4 separate regions of the Homo sapiens genome follow, and all the other regions are linked to region 4. Evidence: fine-mapped expression QTL. A gene starts in region 4. Each other region holds a variant in brackets. All regions are shown on one strand. Distances are from middle to middle. Region 1 overlaps OGDH (oxoglutarate dehydrogenase). Region 2 has its middle 92 kb from the start of ADCY1. Region 3 has its middle 5.0 kb from the start of NPC1L1. Region 4 holds the start of TMED4 (transmembrane p24 trafficking protein 4).

Evidence for each region. PIP is the estimated chance that this variant, and not a neighbour inherited with it, causes the effect.
Region 1: its variant is the best candidate, but not a certain one, in a credible set for the expression of TMED4 in whole blood (TOPMed, PIP 0.64).
Region 2: its variant is the best candidate, but not a certain one, in a credible set for the expression of TMED4 in tibial nerve (GTEx, PIP 0.55).
Region 3: its variant is the best candidate, but not a certain one, in a credible set for the expression of TMED4 in blood mononuclear cells (TOPMed, PIP 0.76).

The regions. Positions count from the first base shown.
Region 1 is chr7:44,644,310-44,646,992 of GRCh38, forward strand. It overlaps OGDH (oxoglutarate dehydrogenase), which reads left to right. Exons shown (of 23, transcript NM_002541.4): 3 at 1,018-1,209. Among named protein-coding and RNA genes, the nearest start is that of OGDH, 39 kb to the left of the region's middle. RefSeq lists an enhancer at 1,131-1,631. The variant A/G (reference allele first, on the strand shown) is at 1,140.
Region 2 is chr7:45,481,265-45,483,947 of GRCh38, forward strand. No RefSeq gene overlaps it. Among named protein-coding and RNA genes, the nearest start is that of ADCY1, 92 kb to the right of the region's middle. The variant C/T (reference allele first, on the strand shown) is at 1,660.
Region 3 is chr7:44,544,969-44,547,651 of GRCh38, forward strand. No RefSeq gene overlaps it. Among named protein-coding and RNA genes, the nearest start is that of NPC1L1, 5.0 kb to the left of the region's middle. The variant C/G (reference allele first, on the strand shown) is at 1,535.
Region 4 is chr7:44,581,230-44,583,912 of GRCh38, forward strand. It overlaps TMED4 (transmembrane p24 trafficking protein 4), which reads right to left and starts at 1,002. Exons shown (of 5, transcript NM_182547.4): 1 at 818-1,002; 2 at 494-594; 3 at 220-345; 4 at 1-10. The coding sequence starts at 977. RefSeq lists silencers at 626-725, 1,126-1,285 and an enhancer at 1,376-1,485.

The DNA.
Region 1 (2,683 bases), 63 kb after region 4:
ATCTTTGTATGAGATGAATAAACCATTACAGTTCACAGTATCTGCAAATTGTAAATCAAATAATTCAGACATGGAATAGCCAAAAATAGTAGGAATATAAGTAAATTAGTTTATAGTTTTTCTAAGGAAATTCAAACTGATAACTAACACCTGACTTTGTGAAGTATTAGACTGTGTGCTAATGCCTTTAACTAGGGTAGTCTTTACAGCATACCTATGAAGAATGTATATATTTCTCTCCTCATAGATGAGAAAACAGCACAGAAAGGTAACTCACTAAGAGCCTACCTCTTGAATTTGAATTTTGATCCCTGACACAGAGATCAGATTTGAATTTCCATCTCTGACCCCACACTTTGAGCTCTTAGCTCCTGAGTTTCTCCTGAGGTAGCAATGATATTATTTCTCTGTGGGGTTAGTGCTGCCTCTTACAAAGGATCAGGTTCCACTTTGTTCCCAGGGAAGTGAAAGGACATGAGCAAGGTGACCCTGGGCTCTTCACAGGTTGTGCTGAGCCCTTGGGGCCTTGAGGGAGGTGTTTGATGGGGTGTTTGATCCCACAGAAAAACTGGTAGAGTTTGCAGACCTATAGACAGAAGGTCAAGAGATCACCTCCCAGGTGCTGGGGCCGGGGGGAAGGCTGAGACAGTAAGTGTCTCTGTTGACCTACATCCTGAATCTGTCCCCAGGCCCAGTGAATAGGAACTGAGGAGAGCTGTTGGCATTGGGCCTTTGGGTTATGTGTGTTGATGGAAGGCGGCCACAGGGCATCTGTGTTATAGCTGTGGGGGTCAGAAAGTGCATCCCGAAGACAAAAGTTGTGGAAAGCAGGGAGCCTGAATGCTGAGAGAAACCCACCGTTTGGGAACAGACAGAGACCCCACTGTCCAGGAGGAAGCAGGCTCAGCCAGCCTATGGTAGACTTGCCTTGCCTGCAGAGAGCAGTTCTCTGTGGCCACAGATGCATCCTGGACTTAGGGGAGCAGTGAGGTAACCCTGTACCTTCTTTGTCTTTAGTCATGGGACATTTTTTTTCGCAACACGAATGCCGGAGCCCCACCGGGCACTGCCTACCAGAGTCCCCTTCCCCTGAGCCGAGGCTCCCTGGCTGCTGTGGCCCATGCACAGTCCCTGGTAGA[A/G]GCACAGCCCAACGTGGACAAGCTCGTGGAGGACCACCTGGCAGTGCAGTCGCTCATCAGGGCATATCAGGTAAGGCGGGTGCTTTACCCGCACACGGGAAAGGGTGCAGTGTTCCTTAGGTCATGCCTCATGGGCCCTATTGGCCTTTCTGAGTGTATGTTGTCACTTTACTTATACCTCCTCAAATACTAGGTGCTTTCTCCCTGCTTTGGGAGGCTAAAAAACAAATACACAAGAAAAAGAACCAGGCTAGCCCTATTTGAGCAAATCTCCCAGCACCACTAATGCCTGCCTTATAAAAGGGATCCTTATTTCCTTTCCTTCCTTGGCAAGAAATATTTGTGGGCAGGGAAAACAAGTCAGTACCCGGGCATCAAGGAGAAGTGCTGCCCATCTGCCAGTGAGCAGTGACTGGGAGGGGTGGTGCTTTTGGGTGGTTGATGCCCCCTTCTCAGTTGCTAACAACTGAATACTATAAGAGAAGAAAACCATACTATAGAGTTTGGGGATGTGGAGGCAGGGAGAGGCAGCTGAGGGTACAGCTGAGCCTACAGAGAGTGATGAGGGGCAGGGGAACTCTCCAAAAGTATTGCAGTTAGTGGCCAGTCTCGTTAGGCAAGTGTTGAGCAGGACAAGGTTTTTCCCCCCATCCTTTCCCAGAGCACAATAACCAAAGTTTTTCTAGGATGTCCACCTGATACATGGGGAGAGCCTAGAGTTCAGATCTTAAGACTTCATCTGTGATAGTTCTAAGGACGACAGGTAGAGACAAGTGAGCCTGGTGCTTCCCTTCTGGAAGCTCCCATGGGCATCCAGGACCCTGCCACCTGTTCTTGTGTAACTGCTTTGGTGGCAACAAGGGGACTCATGTCCCTGGGCTGTCTTTTCTCTCATGCTTTGGTTTCTGGTGGCATGGGCCATGGGCAGGTGTTGTAATGGGGCAACATAGGGGAGGTCCTGGGTCTCTGGCCCTTCATGCCATGGCCTGGCAAGTAAGGCTCTCTCCCTGGGGCAAGTGTATTCTGCCTTAGAAAGGAGATGCATGGAGTTTTGTAAATGCTATATGCTTTAAAGTGTTATCCATGTGGATATTTGCATAAGGAGGAAGCCCAGTGGTGTTTCTTTATCACTGCCTGCACGCAGTTGGCCTCAGTAACAACTTCAGCCTGATCTTGCAGTGACTTACCAGCAGCTGCTCCCTTCTCAAATTGCTAGCAAGAAGTTGTGAAAGAATCTTAAATTGGAAGGGATTTTCTTTCTCCTTTTGGTTTTTAAATAGTTCAAATCAGATGCTTTAAGTCTGTGGTGTAGCAGGGTTTTTTTGTTCTGACTACTGTGTGCTGACCTACTCAGCAGCAGCAGGACCAGAGCCCTCACTCCTCACGGGGATATATAATAAAGGCAAACCTTCTCTTAGTGAGATGACCTCTTATCTGCACTCCTCCCCAGTTAAGGCCAACACTTAAGCCTTCATTTTCCTACTTAGAAAAATTTTTCTTTAAATTTGATTTATTTTAAATTGAGGTGGGATCTCACTGTGTTG
Region 2 (2,683 bases), 900 kb after region 4:
AATTCCCTCTTTATTTCTTCTTAAATTCACTTGGTGTAAATTTTAAATCCTGCTCCATAATGTCTCCCCCAATGGATTTGGTGGGCCAATAAAGGCCAGGATTTCAGAAAGGGAAAAGAAGTTGCCTATGATGGCTCTCAGAGTGCCCTCCCATACCAGCCTGGAAGGACAGTCTTAGAAGAGACTCACACAAAATCTGTTTGCCATTTCTGCCCTAACACCTGATTTACAGAGCCTTCCCCACCCCCTGCTCCCTCTGCTTTAAGTCGTCTGGCTCTCCAATGTTCCTTCCAGTCTTCCAAGGCAGAGCAGCTCTTGATGATCTCTGTCCTGGGTTTGGGCATTGTGTTTCCATGGAGGTGTCCATGGCTGCTACAGCATCACTGGTGGACATGCCACACAGTCACCTTTTATAGCCTTGCAGTTCACAGAGTCTCTCACATCTTTTGTTAATGAGCTACTGTTGAGCCATGATCTTTTTCTTTACTCTTTTTTACTGTTCAGTATGAGATGTTTCAGAAATACAAGAAAGTAGCCGGGTGCAGTGGCTCACATCTGTAATCCCAGCTATGCAGGAGGCTGAGGCAGGAGAATTGCTTGAACCCCGGAGGCGGAGGTTGTAGTGAGCTGAGATTGTGCCACTGCACTCCAACTTGAGCAACAGAGTGAGATTCTGTCTCAAAAAAAAAAAAAAAAAAGAAGAAGAAGAAGAAAGCACCAGAAAGTGGAGTGAATATGAAAATGAACATCTATAGACTCATCACCTAGATTTCATTAACACATTGCCCTACTTATTACAGCTATTGTTTTTAACCAAAGTATTTTAGAGTAAATTACACATAATGTGGCATTTTACCCCACTTTTGTTTTCTCCTATAAAAATTAATTTTCCTATGTAATCCCAATCCTATTGTTCACACCTAAAAATATTAGCAAGCGTTTCTTAATATTATGTAATACCCATTCGAAAGTTAAATGTCTCCAGTTGTCTCCAAGATGTTTTTAAAATGTGATTTGGGCAAATCAAAGACAAAACTTTTGGTTGTATGTTTTCATAGCTCTTTAAAGCTAGTTAACCTTTCCTTCTGCATCTCTTTTTCATTGTGTTGACTTGTTGAAGAGACCAGGCCAGTTGTCTCACGAGTCCCACCTTCTCACTGTTGCCACTCATTCCTGCTTCCTGCTGCAGTGTGTAACTGGTTCCCTATCTCCTGCGTTGCCTATAAACTGGAAGCGAGGCCCTCAATGACCTGCTGTGATCTAGTCAAGCAATTTAGGCAAGGACACATAGGGGATGGATCATATCAGGAGCCATGCATTGCCTGGTGGCCTAAAATAGCTAAAATATGCTAAAATAGCTCTCTGGGTAACTTGACAAACCGCATCCTCCATTGCAACATTATGTTTCCCCTGGGTATTGGCCAGAAATCTATGGGATGTGCATCTGGAACCCTGAGAGTATCCAGCATCCCATCAACCTCCTTAGCATCCCTGGATGTGCCTTGCTTACATCAATTATTTTGCTAGGAATGTTAAAGAGGATTTTCTTACTCTATCAATTCAGTTTATTAGCTGACCTTACTCCATAGGGAAGAATTTTATCTCATCTGCTAAGCCTACTCAGTAACCACAAATATAAATTCTGCTGGAAAGGTGGCA[C/T]GAGGGCTTCATTCTCCTAATTGTGAATTTTCAGAGGAAAGAGCTGACTTAATACCTCATTCCAACAGACACCAATTAAGACAGATTGTTTTTGCTGTCTTCTTTGAGAATTAATATGGGGTCATGGATTTCTAGAAATTGAACACGTTTTAGTCAGTGACAGCCATTATTTTTTCTAATGCCCTAATTAACCCAATTTTGGTAGGGGGATCCCTGTTGAGCTGGCTCCTGCTCTGTTTCTCCTTACTTAGTATTTGTGATGTTGGAAACATTTTGGGAGCAAATCTCAAGACTTTGCATTTATTTCAGTTAAATAGGATCCCTTTCCCAAGACTGTTAAGGTATCATTTTAGATCCGGGGCTGATATCCACCCTCCCTTGCCAATCCCCATGTCACCCCCAAACCAATCCAGCTACTATCATCTGCAAACTTGCTGAGCTATTTCAAGACCATCCCAAGAGAACAAGAAAATACAATTCACGTTTATTCACTTTGTGCAAAACAGGTTCAAAGATATGATTTTCCCTCAGCATTGTGAGAACTATGAGGTGCCCCTCAGGGCTGATTTGCCCCCAGGCATCACAGTGTATAAGTCAAGGTGACAGGATCAAGGGCGGGGTCCTCATCAATGGAATTAGTCTTAATTTGTCACATGAGAGTCATTCTGCAGTATCCCCAGAGAGTGACGGCTTAGACATGTGGCCTATTTGCAGAAGGCTCACCTGGAGCTAGTAGGAGAGCCGTGGATCGCCCCTCGGTCCTGAGAACTGCCCTACAGGGGGAGGCGCGGGAGTCACTGTGCTTCTGTGAGATAGTGATGAGCAAAGAAGCAGGAATAGCAAGGAAAACGGAAGGGATCTTCACCTGGGTGTAGACTACCACTCTGCTGAGAATCTGCTGCCATCTTTAGAGTGCCCGCCTAGATGCTGATTGTAGGTCAGATACTGAGGGTGACGTCACATAATTTTTCCTGCAATTGTACAACAGCAGCACCGCTTTATCTCCATAGTATAAGTGAGGAAA
Region 3 (2,683 bases), 36 kb before region 4:
CTTTGTCTTTCTTGCCATCAGAACCTGCACTCTTTGGTGAAGGATTGTGTCCACTGCTCAGGTGAGAGAGGCTCTCCCTGTTCTCCCAGACCCCTTTGCAGCTAGCAGGGGCCCTGTGATCCCCGTGGGAAGGCTTTTTCTTCCCTCATGAAAGGGGAGGTATGCAGCTGGCATGATATTCTAGCCTTCCCCACTTTTCGCCACACTAGACAGATGGAAGGTCTAGAGCTGTAGCAACCATCTTGTGGTCCTGAAGCATTGAACGCGAGGAAAAAGTCGAGATGCAAAAAATGCCATTGGAAATGACATCAGCAAAATGGTGGCCTAGGAAGCTCCAAGCTCTCATTTCCAAACTGAAACACTGAATAAACAAGCCAAACTGTCAGAACCAACTTTGTTGTCACTCTAGAAAACAAAGGCCTACAGCAACCAGGCAAACACTCAATTTAAAAAAGGCCATCTTCAAAACAGTAGCAAAGTTTTGTGGTGTTTTTACTTAGTCTTGCCCCACCCCTTCCCCAGCATGGCAGCAGTCTTGGTCTTTTTTTTTTTTTTTTCTTTTTGAAGCAGGGTCTCATTCTGTAGCCCAGGCTGGAATGTATTGGTACAATCATGGCTTACTGCAGCCTCAAACTCCTGGGCTCAAGCAATCCTCCAACCTCCGTCTCCTGAGAAGCTAGAATTACATGTATGTGCCACCACACCCAGCTAGTGTTTTAAATTGTTTGTAGAGATAGGGTCTCACTATGTTGTCTGGGCTGGTCTCAAACTCCTGGCCTCAAGTGATCCTCCTGCCTTGGCCTCCCAAAGTGTTGGGATTACAGGCGTGAGCCACTGCACTCAGTCAACAGTTTTGGAATTGAGACAACAGTAGTACAGTTCTCAGCTCCCTCCTCCAAAGAGAGCAGGCCTTATTTGCAAACTATTACGTGCATCTGTTCTTGTCTGGGGGATCCTGGAAGAACTGATGCAAGATGCTGTATCTCTTACCTAAAATCAGGACATTGCTCAGAAAAGATGCCTGGGGCAAGAGGTTATAGGTAGAGACATGCCATAGACCATTTTAAACCCAGAGGAGAAGCTTAGACAATTTGGATATTCAGCAGCAACTCGTGGGCGCAGTGGCTTACATCTGTAACCCCAACACTTGCGGATGCTGAAGCAGGCAGATTGCTTGAGCCCAGGAGTTTGAGACCAGTCTGGACAACATAGCAAGACCCTGTCTCTACAAAAAATTTAAAAATTAGCTGGGGGTGGTGGCATGCAACTGTAGTCCCAGCTACTTGGGAGGCTGAAGCGGGAGGATTGCTTTAGCCCAGAAGTTTGAGACTGCAGTGAGCCATGATTGTGCCACTGCACTACAGCCAGTGCAGTAGAGCAAGTCTCTGTCTTAAAATATATATATGTACATAAATTTTTAAAGCAGCTTTGAGCCAAGCACAGTGGCTCATGCCTGTAATCCCAATGCTTTTGGAGGCCAAGGTGGGAGGATCACTTGAGGCCAGGAGTTTGAGACCAGCCTGGGCAATAATTG[C/G]AAGACCCCCATCTCTACAAAAAATAAAATGTAAAAAAAGTTAGCTGGCATGGTGGCATGTACCTGTAGTCCCAGCTATTTGGGAGGCTGAGGTGGGAGGATCATCTGAGTTTAGGGGTTTGAGGCTGCAGTAAGCCATACCGCACCATTGCACTCCAGGCTGGACATTGACTCAAAAGAAAAAAAAAAAGAAGAAGAAGAAGCCGCCAGGTGCAGTGGCTCATGCCTGTAATCACAGCAGTTTGGAAGACCAAGGCAAGAGGACTGCTTGAGGCCAGGAGTTTGAGACAAGCCTGGCCAAGGTAGTGAGAGCCTGTCTCTACAACAAAATAGAAAAGCAGGCTGGGCATGGTGGCTCACACCTGTAATCTCAGCAATTTGGGAGGTTGAGGTGGGAAGATCCTGCCCTGATCCCAGGAGTTTGAAACCAGCCTGGGAAACATGATGAGACCCTGTCTCTACAAAAAAATAAATAATTGGAAGGGGCCAAGATGGCCGAATAGGAACAGTTCCCATCTGCAGCTTCCAGTGAGACCAGTGCAGAAGGTGGGTGATTTCTGCATTTCCAACTGAGGTACCCAGTTCATCTCATTGGGACTGGTTCGGCAGTGGGTCCAACCCACAGAGGATGAGCAGAAAAAAATAAATAATTAGACGGAGGTTAGGCACCTGCTGTCCCAGCTACTTGGAAGAGACACAGGAAGATCACTTGAGCCCTCAAGGTTAAGGCTGCTGTGAGCTATGTTCACACAAGGACAGGATGGGGAGGGGAGGGGAGGAGAGGGGGAGGGAGGGGGAAGGGAAGGAGGGAGGGAGAGAAGGAAAGAGAGAGAGAAAAAGAAAGAGAAAAAGAAAAAGAAAGAAAGAAGAGGAAAGAAAAAAGCAAAAGAAAAAAGGAAAGGAAGGAAGGAAGGGAGGGTGGCAGGGAGGAGACAGAGAGAGAGAAAGAGAAAGAAAGAAAGAAAGAAAGAAAGAAAGAAAGAAAGAAAGAAAGAAAGAAAGAAAGAAAGAAAGAAAGAAAAGAAGAAAGAAGAGGAAAGAAAAAAGCAAAAGAAAAAAGGAAAGGAAGGAAGGAAAGAAGGAAGGAAGGGAGGGAGGAGAGAGAGAGAAAGAAAGAAAGAAAGAAAGAAAGAAAAAGAAAGGAAAGAA
Region 4 (2,683 bases):
GATGCACCCGCTACAAGGAAACATGGAATGTATGAGTGGTGGGGCCTCCAGTTGTCTGTTCCAGGGTATGGAACCCACTATTGTCCCTGGCTGTGGAGCAGAAGGCAACATCTGTCTCCCCAATTCTGACTGTGCTACAAAGTTTCACAATCTTGATAAATCAAAATTTGGAAACAAGTGAGAGATTCTAAGCTGAAGCCAAAGAGAAAATCCTCTTACCAGTTTGCCACCAGCGAAGAGAGCCATCCTGGTAGAATTGGAGTGCAGACAGATTTGATGGTCACCGGGCGTGTGGGAGGTGAACGTGAAGCGGCCCTCCGAGCCGTACTGCCGGGACAGCACCACCTGCAACATATGTGAGTGAAGGCCCCACCTTTATACCGCAGGCTCTCCAAGTGCAAGTTCCTGTCCCTTGAGGCCTCCTCCAGGCAGTGCTTTACACCCCACGGGAGCTCCACTGAAGAACGGCTGCGTGGGCCAACGCCAGCCTTACCTTGCCGTCGGGGTCCTTCACTTCCACGTGCATGCCCAGGCCAGGGGTCGAGGGCAGGAAGACCTCCTTCTGCTTATCCCACATCTGGGTACGATAGTTGCCTGCGGGGCAGACACATAGTCACGACCGGCCCTAGTGGGCCGCCTCTCCGCCCGGCCCCCTCCGACGTGCGGCCCGGAGCTCTAGGCAGGGGGCCTGGCGTCCTCGGGGCACCCTCAGGCTAGGTACTGGGGGAGCCAGCGACCCGGCTGGGCTCGGGAGGAGGGAGCGCCGCCGAGGGCTGAGCTGGGTACAAAGGGCCTCCCCACCCTCAGCCCGCCTGACCGATGACCATGGTCTCGTCGGGGATTTCCTCGATGAAACAGCGCTTCTCGGTCTCGCCGATGTGGAAGTAGAGCCCCTGGGCGCCTGTGGCGCACAGCGCGAGAAGCAGCAGGGCCTGCCGCCCCATCGCCCGCAGAGGCCCAGCCCCGACACCTGCCATCGCGCCTCAGCCCCTAAGCGCCTGCGCACATTTGCGCATCGCTCTGCGCCTGCGCGCCACCCTAGCGACCCTGAGAGTTAGGGGAAGAGGACGCCTGCGCAGTGATATGTACTCGCCGTCTCCTGCAACTCCATCCGTACCGAACACTGCCGCGCCCCGCCCCCTCACACAGCCCGGCGCCCGCCTACCCCCGCAACGAGAGTAGAGGGCGCATGCGCAATGACGTTCGCCCTTAATTTCTCGCCCCTTACCCCGCAGCTTACCTCCGGCATCTCGCAGGGGAGGCACGCCTGCGCAGTCACGCCCGCCCTCGGCCCCAGTCAGCGATTTGGGTCTCGGAGCACCAAGGAGACGGTGGACGGAATCTGACCAGGCTTGGTGGCTACGATGGCCTGAAGCGTGCCTTTTGGGTTCTCAGCTCGGGCTCACAAGTGTTTTCTGTGCTAAATACAAAAAGCCCTGTGATGTTTTGCTTTGCGTGTCCACCTATCTGACTCGTAAGAACCGAGGCTGAATCCAGACCCACACTCTGTCACGTCGGGAGAGCCTGCCGCGGCGAGCCTCTGCGAGCGGGCATTTCTTGGGTGGGGACCAAAAGCCCAGTGCTGCCATAGTTTCGGATCATTCTTTTAAGAAGCTGGGGCCGGGCGCGGTGGCTGGCACCTGTAATCCCAGCACTCTGGGAGGCTGAGGCGGGCGGATCCCTTGAGCCCAGGAGTTCGGGACCAGCCTGGGCAACATGGTGAAACCCCCGTCTCTACAAAAAATTAACCGGTGTGGTGGTGTGCGCATGTAGTCCCAGCTACTTGGGAGGCTGAGGCAGGAGAATCGCTTGAACCCAGGAGGTCGAGGATGCATTAAGCAGTGATCGCGCTCCAGCCTGGGCGACCGAGGGTGATACCTTGTCTTAAAAAAAAGGTGGGAGAGTGGAACGAAAACTTGGAATAAGTAGGGTCATGGAGCTTGTTTACATCCCCTAGTTACAGCACATCCTTTTGAAAGTGAAAAACAAACTGGAATGTTACTTAGTGGGCATGGAATCGAAGCAACGGAAGGTTAAAACTGTTTTTATCAAGGCCAGGCGGGCGCGGTGGCTCACGCCTGTAATGCTAACACTTTGGGCGGCCAAGGCTGGTGGATCATCTGAGGTTAGAAATTCGAGACCAGTTGGGCCAACAAGGTGAAACCCCCGTCTCTACTAAAAATACATTTTATCAACAGAATTTCGAAACTTTTATATAATAGAATAATTACAATGAACTTTCATAAAGAACTTGAGCATACCTGGATTTTGGTATCCGTAGGGGTCCAGGAATTATCCCCCTTGGATAATAACGGAGGGCTGTACTCATCATCCAACTTCAACAACAGTTTGCTGCCTTTCTCATTTCATGTATCCCTTTCTGCATTTTTTTTTGAAGTGCTGTATATTAAAGCAAATCCTGGACATCATGTCATTTCACCTATAAATACGTCAGTGTGTGTCTCTAACAGATAAGGACTTTATACTATTATCACACCCACCAAAATTTTAAAAATTATTTAACATCACTTAATACCTAGTATGTGTTTAATTTTCCCCATTGCCTTAAAAAATTTTGTACATTAGATATTTAGGGTCCAAACAAGGTTTACTTACTGCATTTCATACAAATATATGTCTCTTAATATATAACAATTTTGGCTGGGCACAGTGGCTCATGCCT